Regions from separate parts of the Homo sapiens genome. Here region 1 is linked to region 2. Evidence: fine-mapped expression QTL. A gene starts in region 2. The other region holds a variant in brackets. All regions are shown on one strand. Distances are between the middles of the regions. Region 1 overlaps DRC3 (dynein regulatory complex subunit 3). Region 2 holds the start of DRC3 (dynein regulatory complex subunit 3).

The links.
Region 1: its variant is fine-mapped to the expression of DRC3 in transverse colon (GTEx, PIP above 0.99). The same link has a PIP of 0.9 or more in esophagus muscle, fibroblasts and subcutaneous fat.

The regions. Positions count from the first base shown.
Region 1 is chr17:18,014,066-18,022,387 of GRCh38, forward strand. DRC3 (dynein regulatory complex subunit 3) reads left to right here. Exons shown (of 14, transcript NM_031294.4): 13 at 1,999-2,130; 14 at 2,493-2,824. The coding sequence ends at 2,606. ATPAF2 (ATP synthase mitochondrial F1 complex assembly factor 2) reads right to left here. Exons shown (of 8, transcript NM_145691.4): 6 at 7,680-7,792; 7 at 7,058-7,173; 8 at 3,956-4,621. The coding sequence ends at 4,484. Among named protein-coding and RNA genes, the nearest start is that of ATPAF2, 21 kb to the right of the region's middle. RefSeq lists silencers at 3,090-3,384, 8,312-8,322. The variant C/T (reference allele first, on the strand shown) is at 4,616.
Region 2 is chr17:17,969,635-17,977,956 of GRCh38, forward strand. DRC3 (dynein regulatory complex subunit 3) reads left to right here and starts at 3,228. Exons shown (of 14, transcript NM_031294.4): 1 at 3,228-3,340; 2 at 4,218-4,328; 3 at 7,948-8,124. The coding sequence starts at 7,965. TOM1L2 (target of myb1 like 2 membrane trafficking protein) reads right to left here and starts at 2,766. Exons shown (of 15, transcript NM_001082968.2): 1 at 2,628-2,766. The coding sequence starts at 2,679. LOC107984989 (a long non-coding RNA gene) reads right to left here. Exons shown (of 3, transcript XR_001752801.2): 3 at 7,922-8,322. RefSeq lists enhancers at 2,259-2,828, 3,200-3,519 and a silencer at 2,470-2,519.

The sequences.
Region 1 (8,322 bases), 44 kb after region 2:
GGGATTACAGGCACCCGCCACCATGCCCAGCTAATTTTTGTATTTTTATTCACCATATTGGCCAGGCTGGTCTTGAACTCCTGACTGAGGTGATCCACCCACCTTCCCGCCTTGGCCTCCCAAAGTGCTGAGATTACAGGCATGTGACACCGTGCCCGGCCAGTGCCAACGTGTTTAAACAAAGAAGTTGCTTTGAAAGAAATGTGTCTTTACAGCCACAAGGACCACAGAGCAGGGCAACAGCTCAAAAAAGACTCAGGAATACCTGTTTGCACAGCCCCTGCCTCCACCCTAGTGCTTTCAACCTGCAGAAACTGGAGAGGGATCTGGAATATTCTACCCATAAAAACTATTCTAAGAGGGAAAATTGAAGTAGCCACCACTCTAGGCCACCCAAAGTCCAGAAACAACTTGTAACTCACATTTCAAAACAATTCCCTTAAACCCAGTTTCCTTTTGTTTTCATTTTACAAATGTCACACAGTTTTTCATAACCAATTCTAATCATGTATGTTTCTAAGCAGATTTCAGTTTCTGTTGCTTCTCACAGCTTTTGAAGCTGTTTTCTACATATTCAAACTCTGAGGGGTATGATTTCTCTGCCTGGCTTAGAGCTCCACTATGACCCACCTTTTAGAATGAAGGATGAGAACCTTTTCGTGATGGGTTGACACTGTGGTTGTAGTTATCTCTAAAATAACCAGGACACCCACTCCTAAGCACACTGCCAAGGCTCACCGAAAACAGGCTTTACACACCTTTGAACCATTCCCAGAGCCTGGCCTGGGACCTTGTACACACATGGAAAGAACTTAATAATTTCTTGACATTTCTCCCTTGTGACTGTGCTAATTGGTCCCCCAGACACCCCATTCCACATATCAGCTAACCTGGCTTTTCCCACATGAGATTATGTGGAAAATCAGCATCCCACAAGACATTAACAGGCATTACTCTGAAGTCTGTAGCCAAAAAAGTTGGAAAACCAAGAGAGACAAAGCTTAAAGGGTTTATTTTCCACAGGACTTTGTAGAGCCTTCAGAATACTTTGTGCCCAGCAAATCTTTAGGAGGGGCCTAGGATGTGCTGGCTTTCCCAAATGTATTTGACCAAAGAATACTTTTTTTGGCAGAAATATTAACATCTTAAGATTGCACAGAACGTTTTAGAGACCATTAAGTTAACTGCCACTACAGGAAAGAACAAAAAATGCACACTCCACTTGCAAATCCTCCCTGCAATACAGAGCATTCAGGTGCTCTGCCTTACCAAGCGCCTCTGCTTCAAGGTGGAAGCAACTGCTTACTGAGTGCTTCAGTGGCCTTGCCCTGCTCTGGGAAATGACTCCATTTCAACCATCCCAGGCAACAATAGCCACAGTGTCAACACCTAGAACCAGTGAGGCCTATTAGAAGGTGGTTGTTTCTAACAACTTTTTACAAGACAGCAAAGTCAGGAACAAGAGAAGGCAGAAGGATACTCCAAATGGAATCCAAAGTTTGGTTTTGTTGACATGAGTGGCAGTGGAGAGACAACTGTGGGGTGAACACCCATGAGTTTGTAGGGCCTGCTGTCTTCAGAGCAGCCTCGAGACCCTCAGCCAGCCTCATGCTTCCACCCAGCAGGCAGAGGTTTTGGGCAAGTTAGACTTGAGAGTAATTGAGAGAGAAGCATTGTGAGAACAGATGTCCTGGGTGAGGTGCCCCCTGGGCAGCCATCTGCCTTCACCCTGGAGGAAACATGCTTCCAGCGGGGACTGCAAAGTAACACCCTGGTTGGCCCTTTCCCCACAACACCTGCCCTGTGCAGTTGGGGAAGCGGCTGTCACAGATGAATTCACAGATGAATCGGCAGAGTGCGCTGATACAAAGGTGGGCTCTGCTCTGAGTGTGGCCTGCACAGCCAGGGGACTTCCAAATGCTCCTTCTCTGTTCAGCTCCCTTTGTGTTCACGGTATAATGACACACACTTTCTCATTGGATTCTTTTCACTCACCAGCTTTTTGTCGATAAAGATACGATTGTTAATGCTGTCGGGGCATCGCACGACATCCACCTCCTGAAGATTGACAATCGAGAAGATGAGCTGGTGACCAGAATCAACTCTTGGTGTACACGTTTAATAGACAGGGTGAGTCAATCCCAAGCCATCCTAGCAGGCTGGATGAACTTTTCTAGCTGACATGGAAATCCTCCCTAGGTAGTGGATAGAATTTTCATTAAGGAATGAAATGAAGGAAGAAATAAAATTAAGGATTATAGAATTCCACACTGAAGACAACATTGCCCAGAGACTTTAAAACCCATGGGCTTCATCATTTTCCTAATTCCTACCTCAAATATACAGAGATCAGCAGAACCTGGGGAGGCGCTGAAGCAAATGAGGTTTGCAGATCTAAAGGAACTATTTTCCCCTTCCCTCAAACTGGATTCAGTGAAAGATATTAACCAATGATCTGATGTAAGGAATCGGGCTTTGGTTTCACTCCTCAGATTCACAAGGATGAGATCATGAGGAACCGCAAGCGCGTGAAGGAGATCAATCAGTACATCGACCACATGCAGAGCGAACTGGACAACCTGGAATGTGGCGACATCCTAGACTAGATGAATGTCAGCCACAGGAGCTTCTTCAAAACATAGCACCAGCCCCAGCCAGGAGAAGGAAGTGCACACGCCTCACCCGCACCTCTAGAGAGTTGCTGGGCATCTCTCAACCGCGATCCCCAACACCATTCTTCCCCCACCCCTGGAAAAACTTCCAAAAGTAGAGAAAATAAAGGACTCATTTCACATTTCCCCTACTCATAAAAAAAAAAAAAAAATCAGCTGGGTGCGGTGGTTCACGTCTGTAATCCCAGCACTTTGGGAGGCCGAGGCATGCAGATCACGAGGTCAGGAGTTCGAGACCAGCCTGACCAACATGGTGAAACCTTGTCTCTACTAAAAATACAAAAATTAGCCAGATGTGGTAGCGTGCACCTGTAATCCCAGCTACTCAGGAGGCTGAGGCAGGAGAATCACTTGAACCTGGGAGGCGGAGGTTGCAGTGAGCCAAGATCGCACCACTGCACTCCAGCCTGGGCGACAGAGCGAGACTTCGTCTCAAAAAAAAAAAAAAAAAAAAAAAAAAAAAAAAAAAAATGTTCATGTAGGAACAAGAGAAAGAGTTTGAGATGAACAGCCGGTCCCAGGCCAGCTGACAGAGCAACTCCCAAGGGCACTGCCATCAGCTAGATTCTTGGCTGTGGCATAAAGTCAGACACGTGCCCCTGCCGTTTCCCCTGCCATGCCTAGGCAGGCTGCCAGCCACAGGCAAAAGGAGGCCGGTGTGGGCTAAGACCTTCTCTGCTCTGGGTGCTGAGGGGCAGGGAAGCAGGAGGAGAGGCTGCAGCTCCCACCACAGTGCTGGGGCCTGGGCCTGCCCACCAAGGCTGAGGTTAGCCACAAGGACCTGAGGACCCTCCAGAAGAGCAGAGTGCAGGCAGGGCATCCCAGCTCCACCATGTCACCCCCGCAGCCCTGGTGTCATCTGTGACAGTACCTCACAGTGCCTTCGAGGAACAGTTCAGGGAGACAGTGCATGGGAAGCGTGGAGAGGCACCCAGCATGCGATCAGTGCCCTGTGAGCAGGGTTGATGCCATTACCTTACTCAGGCTGGCAAGGACACAGGGCTGAGAGAGCCTGTCTGCCTGAGAACCACTCTTCCCCCCTGCCCTCTTACTGGCCTGACACCAGAAAGTAGCGCCTGCCTCCTGGGACACTAGAGGTGGCTATGTCAGGAGGACCCTTAGGACTCCTGGGTGGGAGATGAGCGGAAACATGCACATCAGGTGACCTTGTCAAGCCTGTCCAGGCTTTTAGCCCAGAAACAACTTCTATTTTCTACTTTCTAGAGTAAATCATTTGTTTTAGAACAGTAGGAACAAATAGAAACAACCAGCTTAGACCACAATTGTTTCAAAAGATTGTTTGATTAAAAGCCAGCCAAAAAAAAGCCTTCAGGCTGAGGCTGAAGAACACAAATAGAGTTGTCTGTGGATTACATGATTGTTTCCCCAGTGCAAGGTTCCTGACCACAGGCAGCAGATATCCAAACACGCCATGGGAGATAAGCTGTTTAACCCTCTGGAACCTAGACAAAACAGGAAGAATGGAGAAGTGCAGAGGCATACGTGAAAACAGGGCTCAGCACATTTCCAGGGTGGAGAAATATTTAATAAAATCAGAGTCGAGAGAAAGTCACTTGCACAATTCATCTCCTACATTCACTGCTGGCCAGGCCAGGGGCACCTGGGTTGAAATCAGGCTGACCTCCGGACAGCCGTACTAGCGCACTGTGTCTCGGGGGGAATCTCAGGGTGACGCTGAGGCCGAGTCCCCAAAAGCCAAGGAAGCCAGCCCCACAGGCTGGGGAGCCCTGAAGGCCGGGGGAGCTGTGGCTGCACTGCCTCTATCCTGCTGAGTGTGCTCTGCCCAGGCCTCACTCCTTCAGGAGCTTGTGCTTGACTGTGGTGCTCTCGGAGCAGAGATGGATGAAGAGGGTGCCGGCGGCGGTGCGGGCCCGCAGCTCCTGCAGCTCATAGTCATGGGCCCACTCAATGTTGCCCCACTT[C/T]TGGATCTGAGGGAAGGACAAGACAAGTTGCTGGGTGAGTGGCCAGTGCCTGGCTGCCTCCTGACCAAAGCCACGTTCCATTCCAATAGGTTGGCTGAGGGCAACAGGTTTGTATCTTGCCAAAACACATGAGACATGCCTAGGGGGAGGTGGCAGGTAAGAACACCCAGGTACGCCAGACACGGTGGCTCACGCCTGTAATCCCAGCACTCTGGGAGACCGAGGCAGGAAGACTGCTTGAATCCAGGAGTTCAAGACCAGCCTGGGCAAATATGGTGCAACCTCGCCTCTACAAAAAGGTTTAAAAATTAGCTGGGTGTGGTGGGGGTGCACCTGTAGTCCCAGCTATTTGAGAGACTGAGGTAGGAGGACTGCTTTGAGCCCAGGAGGCTGAAGCTGCAGTAAGCCAAGATCACACCGCTGCACTCCCACTTGGGCAACAGAGCAAGACCCTGTCTCAAAAACACCACACACACACACACACACACACACACACACACACACACCCCACCACCCCACCCCCAGGGAGCCGGAGCAGGCACCTGTGCTCTCTGTGGCATGGATGGTCTGGAAGAAGTGCAGTCCAGGCCCAGGCCCAGGGCCAGTGGCTGCCCACCCACCACTGGGCAGGCTGGGTACCAGAACCACCCATGTGACTTCTTTGAGGAGGCCTTATGTGCCATCCCTTCTCCTACACTTCCTCCCAGAAAGCCTGTGAATGGACAGCCTCTCCAAGTTGCCTTGCCATGCTGGGCTACAAGTGCCCCCCAGCGCCATGTGGGTGGAATAACTAAATCAAGTAAGGCCACGCAGTGGCTTCAACTCTGACTCTTGTGGTAGTCACAGAACTACAGATGCCTCTGCTCTGCACACTGGGGACAAGTTGCAGATTCTCTGTCTGGAGCTCTAAAAACAAGAGGGAGGAACGCTCAGACACACGATGTGGCTGTCCAGACAGTGTAAGTCCAACCAAACCTTGCTGGCTCCTCCCTGGCTAGTTGCCCAAGAGGCCTGGCCTGGCCGCCCCAGCTCATCCAGGAACTCAGAATCCACCATGCTACACAAGCTATTTGAACTTCTGGGCTGCCTGGTCCCAAACTGTACAATTGTAATATGTCATCTGAAGAGTATTCCATACTTTCATTGTATACCATCACATACATAATTCAGGTTATTCCTCTGTTTGTAGAGGATCGAAACCAAAGTTCAGAGAATGATGGCCTGGCTTGGGTCCCATAGTCAGAAGCAGAGCCCAGACTGGCTTCCCACCAGCCCTACAAGTCACCCCCTTCCTATGTAATCAGTTCTGACATCCAGAGAATAGTAGCGGGCCTCCTTTGTTATACAAAAATAGTTTTTTCCCTGGCATTTTTCTGAGCAGAAGACTACAAGAACTAGGGAAATACATCACAAAAAGTTTTGTGTTTTTTTGTTTGTTTGTTTTTACCATATTAGGGACCAATTCATAATAGCAATTAACCTTCTGAGGTTGGTGGAATAACAATAAAAAGACTGCAAAGATGGCTATAATTTTCAGAGTTAAAAAATGCAAACCATACTGTGGCAAAACCTTAATTCTGAGCCCACTAAATCAAAACTTGTATACAAACAGCAGCTACCCCTATGCTCCTCTGCCAGCCAGATAAAATGTCAGGGTATGAAGGCTCAGCTGATGAAGGAGCACAAACGGGTTCTCAGTCATCTTGGCAGGGCCTGTTCTGCAGGCTTTATCAAGCCCAGATGGTCTTTATCCACCCGTGAACCTCCTTGTGCAGAGTGAGGCCTGACGGCCTTGGCCCTAAAATCACCAGACCTGGCTTCAAACCCCAGCTGGCACATTTTCCAGAGGTGCAACCTTGCACCTCCATTTCCTTCTGTGTAAAACAGAGATAACCACAGCTCCTACCTGCCCAGGCTGCTGAGAGGAGGTGAGATGGATACAATGCAGGAACACAGCGGTAGCACTTACTGTTATTTTTTTATTGTTATTATCTTACCTTTTTTTTTTTTTTTTTTGAGACAGGGTCTCACTCTGTCACCCAGGCTAGAATGCAGTGGCACAATCCTGGCTCACTACAACCTCCACCTCCCAGGTTCAAGCAATCCTCCCACGTCAGCTTCCCAAGTAGCTGAGACTACAGGTGCTAATTTTTGTATTTTTGTAGAGAGAGGGTTTTGCCATGTTGCCCAGGCTGGTCTCAAACTCCTGACCTCAAATGATCCATCCTCCTCAGCCACCCAAAGTGCTGGGATTACAGGTGTGAACCACCATGCCAGGCCTACTTGACAATACTTCTGCTGGTCCTTGATTTTGATTTCTGCGTGTACATAAAAGTAATAAAAGCCAAGTATGCATAACTATATTTCAGATGGGTTAGCTGCTCCCCCAAAGTGAGTCTGAACTAGGAAGGGGGAGGCGGGACCTGAGGTGCTGCTCCTCACCTGGTACTCCTCCTCCAGGCGTGACAGCAGCACGGCCTGCTCCACTGTCAGGCGCAGGTCAATCAGGCCCAAGGTTAGCACCATGGACTTGAGCTGGGCAGCTACAAACTCAATCCCTGCAGGGACACAAGCCAAGTCAGAACCCAAAACAGGGCAGCTGCCACAACCTACCCCTTGTGAGTCCCAGCAGCCCTAGCAGAGAACAGGAGTGAGTGGTGCAAAGAGCCATCCAGCGATTGTCCCACTCTTCTGAAAGAGCACTCTGGTCTTCCCTGGGGGTGATCCTCCTCTGCTCTTACCTAGTGAGACACATGACCCGAACTTGGCAAATCAGAGCTTTCCGCACCCAGTCTAGTGATTGGTTCATGGATGGACATGTGACCCAAGCCAGGGCAATGAGATTGAACTCAAGACTTCTGCTGGCGAAGTCGAAGGTGGAAAGGTGTGAGCCTAGAGCGTAGAGTGATTGGCTAGCATCAGAGCCACCCAGCCTCCACACTCAGCTAGCCCAGAACACTCTGTGCCTCTCCACTCACAGGACCTGGGGAGGGGCAAGTACAGGCTTCAGACACTGATGGCCTTCACAGCCACCTGCCAAGCCCACAAGAAACTCCATACATGCCTTGTAAAGCCCATGTGTTGTAAGATGCCAGGTGGCTGACGAGCACCTCCCGAGTTTTGGCAGGGATGCTGGGTCCCATTATGCTGGTGGAGGAGCTGATCTCCACGCCGTATCTGAAAGGAAAAGGGCTTCGGCATGTCTCTGTCATGCTGTAGCCCAAGAGCAGCCCACCTTTTGACTAGAAACAAAGGCCTAAGCTTCAGAGCATGTGTGTGCATTGGCCAAGGAGCTAGTCTTGACTACAGGAGCAACTGCCACCATGGTCAGTGGCCTCCCGACCTGATTTTCTGTCCCTCAAAAGCAAACTTGGAGGACCAAGAAACTGTGCTGAATGAAGGGATGGTTCCTGAGTCATGTGAGCTAGGGCTCGGTTATACGCAGCTGCCTGAAATGCTCATTCATTCACCTGGAATCTCCATCAAAAGGCCATCTGCCTTTTACATCTCTTTAAAGTTTTTCACATTTGAGGACATATAAAAGTTAAAAACAATATTTAAAATGGTTTTCCTTAAAATAATGTTTATGTCATATATCATGGAGGTTTTCTTTTTTATTGAGACAGGGTCTCGCTCTGTCACTCAAGCTGGAGTGCGCTGGCATGATCTTGACTCACTGCAGCCTTGACCTCCTAGGCTCAAGCGAT
Region 2 (8,322 bases):
ATGGTGAATCCTGGGGCCTGGTAGGGTATTTTCCTTCACAGGTCACAGACGGGCCAGTTGTTTCACATATCCTCTCCAGATAGAAAATCCAACCCTAACTTAAATATTCTGTTATTAACAGTGGCAGTTTCAATTTACTGAGCTTCTACTATGTTCCAGATACTATGCTAAGTGTTTTCATACATTATCTCATTTAAACTACATTACTCTGTGAATAGGAATCTTTCTCTCTCTCTCTCTCTCTCTCAGAAGACTGACAAACTAAACCTCAGAAAGCAACACAATTTTCTGGGGTCACACAGCCAAGAAATGGGGGCCAGGTCAAAATTCAACTTAGGTCTCCCTGACAGAAGTATCAAGCTCTTTCCACTTGCTATATATCCCTATATCTCTTATATTTGGTTTTTTGTTGTTGTTGTTGTTGTTTGTTTGTTTTTTGAGACAGAGTCTCACTCTGTCGCCCAGGCTGGAGTGCAGTGGCACAATCTCAGCTCACTGCAAACTCCGCCTCCCGGGTTCAAGCAATTCTCCTGCCTCAGCCTCCCGAGTAGCTGGGACTACAGGCGCATGCCACCACGCCTGGCTAATTTTCTTTTTTTTTTTGGATTTTTAGTAGAGACGGGGTTTCACCGTGTTAGCCAAGATGGTCTCGATCTCCTGACCTTGTGATCCGCCCGCCTCAACCTCCCAAAGTGCTGAGATTACAGGCGTGAGCCACCGCACCCAACCACATTTGTATTTTAAATCCCCTTTAACTTCTACCCCTCATTTACTACCTTGTCATTTTAAAGGTGTAGAGCTTCCTATTATAAAGGGGACAGAAAGGAAAACAATTCTCGCAAGTTTTCTGGCTCCCTCCATTAACTGGCTGGAAATTAGTTTTTGGAGTGTGGCTGCCATGCAAGAGCACCTGAAGAGAGTGGAAAAGGACATGGGGAAGAAGTAAGGAAGTGAGAATCCAGAGACTCTCCAGTGGGCAGCAAGAGACAAGATGTCAAAAAGGTGGGAAAACACTCTTTTGGGGTCCCTCATGCATTATAAAAGATACTACGCCAGAAAGTAAAGAAAGGCTCCTAAATGCTAATTAGCCAACAGGAGAGACCTCAATAAGTTTATAGGCTCCACTAAAGGCTGGAAAGTAAGCTAAAATTTCATAAGCAAAGCAGAAAATAAACAAATCACTACTGCTGAAATCAGGCCCATAAGAACACCAAAGATCCTGGCTCATAAAAGACGTTTTACCAGTCCTTCAACCAACCAGGAGGAATCCAGTTTTCAAACAAACTAATCAGCATTCTTGACTGATCAAGTGGCATAAGCCACTGCCTTGGGTAAAAAGGCAAGTTGCTTTCTTAGTAAGGAAGTCCCATATGGTGGCCATTTCAGTATTCCTTTACCTACACTTTGGGCTTTCCTTATCCATGATTCTGGCCATCTCTGGTGTCCCCAGGTGTCCACATCCCCCCTATAGGATTAACAGATAATGCTGAGTACCATTCTCTCTACATTGCCAACAAAAGATTTCAGCTTTGGTAAACTTAATATGAGGTGGGGGAGGAAGCAACAGTCAATGTGCAGAGTACTACAAAGAATATCAAAACTTGAGAACTTTAAGGGATCTATCACATCTCATCTCCAAACACTTTGACAGACAGGGGAACTTCAAACCAGAAAGGGCACAAGGTCATATGGAGTCACTGACAAAACCACTGCTAGAGTCCAGGCTTCCATGATTCCCAGTCCAGGGCTCTTATCATTAAATAACACAGCCTCCCTTCTTTCCTGGGAGGCACTGCAGGCATGCCATCCCCCTGCCAAGATAATCACCCTCCAAGAGCCCCTCCTCCTATCCCAGTCCCTCCTACAGCACAGCTGAGTTGCAGCTCAAATTAGCAAGTCCCGGAGCAGGGGGCATTTCTGGGAGGGTGCCCAGTCTGAGGGTTGCTGGTACCGAAGAGGAGGGACAAAGATGGAGAAGAAGGTGACATCCCACAAAGGGTTTGGGAGAACTGGGTCCTTGGGGCAGTGGCAGTGAGCCTGCTGGGCTGGATAAAGACACATGCAGTGGCATCTCCCAAAGCGCATTGGGGAAGCAGACCAGCAGTTGGCACCACCTCTAGCAGCAAAAGGAAGGGCTGAGCCTTGATGGGCAGGGAAGCCTGGGGCATCTCCGAGTCCAAGTTGGGCCTCAGGGGTGCCTCCTGGCAGAGTGGCACTGGCGCGCCCGTGAGGTGGCACCAGTGCCCGGGAGGAGGCCCGAGGACACAGATGCCCTGCCTGCCCGTGGGATAGCACCGGCACCCGGCGAAGGCCCAGCCCCCCCGGGAGGTGGCACCGGCGCCCGGCGAACGCCCGACGACCAGGATGCCCAACCCGCCCGTGAGGTGGCACCGACGCCCAGTGAAGGCCAGACGACCAGGATGCCCAGCCCGCCCGTGAGGTGGCACAAGCGCCCGGCAAAGGCCCGACGACCAGGATGCCCAGCCCGCTCGTGGAGTGGCACCCGCGGCTGGCGGAGGCCCAGCCCGCTCGTGAAGTGGCACCGGCGCCCGGCGGAGGCCCGCGGTCCTCACCAGCCGGATCAGCGGCCGCCGTTGCCCAGCCTCCTGCCCCACACGCGGCCTTACCGAGGCACTGCCCCACTGGTGTGCTGAACGGGTTCCCCAGGAGGAACTCCATCTTGGGTGGACAACACGCAGCGGCCCGGGCCCCCTGTCTGCCACCTAGGCCTCCGCTGTAACCCGCCGGACTCCCGTCCTGACTGACACTTGCCCCCTCCCCACTCTCTGGAACGCCGAGCTTAGGGCCTTTGGCCCCGCCCCCTTGCCGCGTCTCTATTGGGGGACACCTACGAAGCCCGCCTCCTATTGGTCGTTACACCTCTGTCAGCAAAGCCCCCACCCACCCCGCAGCGTCCGATTGGGCGGAGGAGCGAGCTAGGTCACCGGAGTCCCTGTCAGCCGTGGCGGCACCTCCCCTGGCCCGCCCCCAAAGGGGAAGCTGCGCATTTTGATTCCTCTGTATATTGGTCAATCTAAAGGATTCTTACTATTATTGGACAAAAGACGAGTCAATCACGCAAATGGACGGAACAGAGGTGAATCTAGGAATATCCCCGCCCATAGAAAGTACTGATTGGAGAAACATTTGTTTTCTCTACGGCTGGTTGGTGTAAGGAGTGTTTCACCACACGGAGATGTGGTCACGTGACTTGTCAACTTTCACCCAGGATGTCTCCCTTCTGACTTCCCCTTAGCAACCAAGTCGCGGCGCTTGGTTCCCCAGCAACCGGGAGACGCGTCTGCTGCGTGGAACCGCCGAGTTCCCAGCGCTTGAGAAGGTGAGACCTGGGAGCTGAGGCTCCCGGAGGACTTGCAGGGACAGATAGTGCCCGACGTAACTCTTTCCTGTGACCTTTTTCTCGGAGAACGCCGGCCCGGCCCTTCTCATTTATAAAATGAGCACGTAGGTCCTCTCCCAGCCACTTTACAGTCGTGTGAGACAGCCAAGACACTTTAGTCCTGGGCTTGTCAAGCTTTTGAATAAAAAAAAAAAAAAATACTAAGGAAGCATTTCCCGAGGGAGCAGGGCCAGAATGGATTTTTAAGGGGTTCCGTCTTCCAGCCTCCTTTCATAGAAAGAGAGGTACCCGGTCCACTGATAACTTTTCCCAGAATTTAGCCATCATAACTGACCTCATAACTATCAAATGATTTCATCTTGGTACTGTATATACCGCTTTGGATGTGAATACGGCTACTCAAGTTCTGTATCCGTCTCTGTCAGTAACTCATTGTACGACTTTGGACAAGTTCCTTTACCTCCCTGGAGCCTCAGGTTCCCTAGCTGGGAAATAAGGGCATTAGGACTCCCTTTTTATGGCCTCCGGAGCTTACATGTACTTAAATAATGCATGTGCACTGAGCACACAGTAAGCATTCAGTAAGTGATTGATTTTATTCTTTTTTAAGAAAAATTTTGTTCATTATTTATTTATTTATTTATTTTTTATTTTTAAAAATGGAGACAGGGTCTTCCTATGTTGCCCGGGCTGGTCTTGAACTCCTGAACTCAAGCAGTCCTTCCACCTCGGCCTCCCAAAGAGCTGGGATTACAGGTGTAAGCCATCTCGCCCAACCAATTTTCTCCTTATTAATTCATGGCCAATAGGGACTATAGTTTTCAGATCCTGTTGACTTCAGGTTATCATTTCCCAGGAAAATTCTGGATCTGTTATCTGTGAGGAGGCCACTCCGTTGACAGTTGTGTAAAACTCTGCTGCTTTCCCCAGCTCCAACCTCTCTGGTCTTCAACAACACTATCATCAGGCAAGTCAAAGGGGACCCAGGTTGGGTGGTAAACTATAAGATCCCCATAGAAGAGGACTGTTTGGGCCTTGGCCCTGAACCCAGGACAACTGTGAGAAACACTGTGAGCTGTGGCAATGATAGTCCCCAGTACCCTGGATACAGTTGAGTCATGATTAGGAAAATGAACTCTGCCACGTGCTAAGTGTATGAAGTTGGGCATGTTAATTAACCTTTTTAACTAGCTTCTGTTTTCTTATCTGGATATTGGTGAGTATTAGCCCTACATGTAAATTAAGTTTCTAGAAATTTCTCCCATCTACATCTTGCTAACACCCTGGTCATCTCTCACCTCAGTACTTTTGCAATTCTCAGTACTGTTGCTAGAGTGAGCTTCTTAAAAACTAAGATCTGATCACATTGCTTCCCTTATTTTTTTTATTTTTTGAGATGGAGTTTCGCTCTTGTTGCCCAGGCTGGAGTGCAATGGCACGATCTCGGCTCACCGCAACCTCCGCCTCCCGGTTTCAAGCGATTCTCCTGCCTCAGCCTCCAGGGTAGCTGGGACTACAGGCATGCACCACCATGCCCAGCTAATGTTGCTGCCCTTATTAAGCCCTAGGTGCTTTCCAGGGATTCTAGGATAATAACAAAACTCCCACAGACCTCTCCAAACTTGCATCACTTCAGCCAAAGTGCAACAAGTCTGTTCTCTCCCACCTAAAGGGCCTTTCCACAAAGTTACCTCCTCCTTCTTTCCTGCTTGTCCTTCCAATCAGCCCTGTCTTCCTTGGCCAGGCCAGGTGCCCCTAATGTACAATTTCATAGTTCCCTACACCTACAAATTGTCATGGTTTGTAGTTAAATATTTGTATTATTGTTTGATTCATGCCTGAAGCTGGGTTAAAGTCCGTCTGTTTTATTCACAGCATATAGCAGTTACTCACTACCCATGTGTGGACTAAATACGTGATCTCACACAAATGCAGAAGGGAGAAATTATCCACCTTTTACAGATGGGAAAGCCAAGGCTTAGATAGGTGAAGTGAGTTGCCAAAAGATGCACAGTCAGGATCCAAATCCTGCTCTGATGTGCTTAACAAATAGCATATGTAATAACAATCCCCCATTTCCTAGCATAGCAATTGCTGGGCTTGACTGAAAGCAAACTTGATCTGTCACAGGTACCAGGCCCTGATGAAGTAGGAGGGATAAGTCAGTTAAAGTTTTGAAATCAAAATTAAGAGTCATTTCCCAAAGTATAGCACCTTTTTTTTTTTTTTTTTCTTGATGGAGTCTCGCTCTATCACCAGGCTAGAGTGCAGTGGTGCACGATCTCGGCTCACTGCAACCTCCAACTCCCTGGTTCAAGCGATTCTCCTGCCTCAGCCTGTCAAGTAGCTGGGATTACAGACATGCGCCACCATGCCCAGCTAATTTTTGTATTTTTAATAAAGTCAGGGTTTCACCATGTTGGCCAGGATGGTCTTGATCTCCTGACCTTGTGATCCGCCCACCTCGGCCTCCCAAAGTGCTGGGATTACAAGTGTGAGCCACCGCGCCTGACCTCCCCACCCCCCCCCCAAAAAAAAGGCCAAACACTTTGCAGAAAACATCAGCCAAATATAACACATTAAAATTCCCCCAAAGACAAGTTGATGACAAGTTATGGGAAACCGCAGGGGAAGCCATTGCATAAGAGTGGGGAGCTAGAGAGAGGCCGAGGTCTGGAACTGTCTTTGGGGGTAGAATCAGTCACCCCAACGAGGTGGAGCCAGTGTGAACAGATTGGAGAGAGTGGGAGGAAAAGGACCAAGGTCTTGGGAGGACGGAAGGCACAGGTGGAGAAGGGGTAGGGGTTGAAGGGTGTGGAGGCTATGCCTCCCCTGGAAGCAAGAGAGAAGTGTGCACAAGAGCTCATTGGGACATTTGATGAGGGACAGTTCAGGGCAGAGGATGCATATTTGCAGAAGCTGCATCCAAGTGGATGGTCAGGGAGGCAAGAGGAGGGCAGTCTTAGAGGGAAGTCTCTAAGACCAGGTAACAGGATTGTATGGCCCAACCTGGCTTTTCAGCAGACACCATCAGCCCTGCACCAGGAGTTTCTCCAGCAGTGCCCAGTGGAATGAAAAACAGAGCACAGGGGCTGCCTAGCATCAGGGACCAGCAGGGCAGAAGGACAGGAGGTTCAGGGAGGCCCAGATGCTGGGAAGGCATGTAGACAAAGATAGGAAGTAGGGCCAGCAGGGAGGCAAGAATCAGGGGTGGAAAGTGGGGGAAAATATCCCTCCTGGATGTCCTCACCAAGAGGGTTGATAAGGATGAGAATGTGGTCCAGCCACGAACGGCAGCCTGGAGTCAGCCTCACATTGTGACTGACCAAATCTACAGATCCCCCCTGTGCTGTGGTGTCTCAGTCAAATCCCTCTGGACCATTAGCAACAGAATCTACTGGAGGCTGGGCACGGTGGCTCATGCCTGTAATCCCAGCACTTTGGGAAGCGGAGGCAGGTGGATCACCTGAGGTCAGGAGTTTGAGACCAGCCTGGCCAACATGGTGAAACCCCGTTTCTACTAAAAATACAAAAAATTAGCCAGGCGTAGTGGTGGACACCTGAAATCCTAGTTACTCAGGAGGCTGAGGCAGGAGAATCGCTTGAATCCGGGCGTTGCAGTGAGCTGAGACCGCGCCATTGTGCCCCAGCCTGGGCGACAGAGCGAGACTCTGTCTCAAAAAAAATAAATTAATTAAATTAAAAAATAACCTACTGGAGCTAGCTTAAGTAGAAGAGGATTTCATGTGAGAAACAGGAAACTCTCATGAGGCCTGGACCTAGGGACATTAGGGACTGGAAAGCCAGCAAGAAGGAGGCAGCCTCTGTCTGTGTCGATCTGTCTGTCCTTTGTCTTTTGTTTTCTGATTCCCAGGTTCCCATCTCTGCTTTTCTCTGTGCATCTGCCTCCTCCCCCTCTTGCTCTCTGCTTAACTATGTACCCAGCCAGCCCACACTCCCTATTCCTCCCCAGCTCAAGCAGCCAGCTCCGATGGGCACTCTCATTCCACAGCCTCAACTTCACATCTCCCACGGGGAGGACGTGAATGGGCAGCTTGGGTCAGGGGCTCCCTCTGCACCAGGAGAAGCTTGTGGTGTGGTGTGGGGCATACACACATGACGGCCTGGAGGGGGTGAGGTGCTCAAGGAAGAGGAGCTGCAGGCTGACAGGCCTGGCTGGGGCTGCCCAGGGAGCACAGTCAGTGGTTGGTACCCACAAGCCCAAGTGAGGATGGGCATACAAAGTCAGAGGCCTGACACAGGGCCACAGTCATAAGATGAGTCAAGATCACAGGCTAGGGAGACCAGTGTGGACACCAGTCCAGTGGGTCCAGCGAGGGTCCCAGCTGTGGCTGTAGGGTCAAGGGATGAAACCCTGTGGACAGGCCCAGGTGGTTGCCAGGAAGCCCTGGAGCAGCCTTGGCGTAAGTATACAAACCCCGAGATGCAGCAGACCCAGGGCTGGGCGTGGGGCATTCCTCAGAGTGCCAGTGGCCACAAGACACTACAGGGGGAAACCTCAGCCAGACCCTGCCCTCAAACAGAGAAAGAAGCAGGCCGTGAAGGAAGAATGCGGTGTTTTTTAGGGAAAACGTGGGGGAAGATGAACCAGCCGTGCAACTCGATGGAGCCGAGGGTGATGGACGATGACATGCTCAAGCTGGCCGTCGGGGACCAGGGCCCCCAGGAGGAGGCCGGGCAGCTGGCCAAGCAGGAGGGCATCCTCTTCAAGGATGTCCTGTCCCTGCAGCTGGACTTTCGGAGTATGTATCCAAGGTTCAGGGGTGGTGGCCAGGGTGGGCCCTCCCTGGCTTTCTCTGCTCCATCTTCAAGCCCCAGGATTCCATGCAAAGTCCACGGTCGAGGTTCCCACATCAGCATTAGGGCCTACCTGGGTTACAAGGCATAGGAGCAGCACAGATGTTTGTAAAGCGTCATACTTAGTGTCTTCATCATTTGAA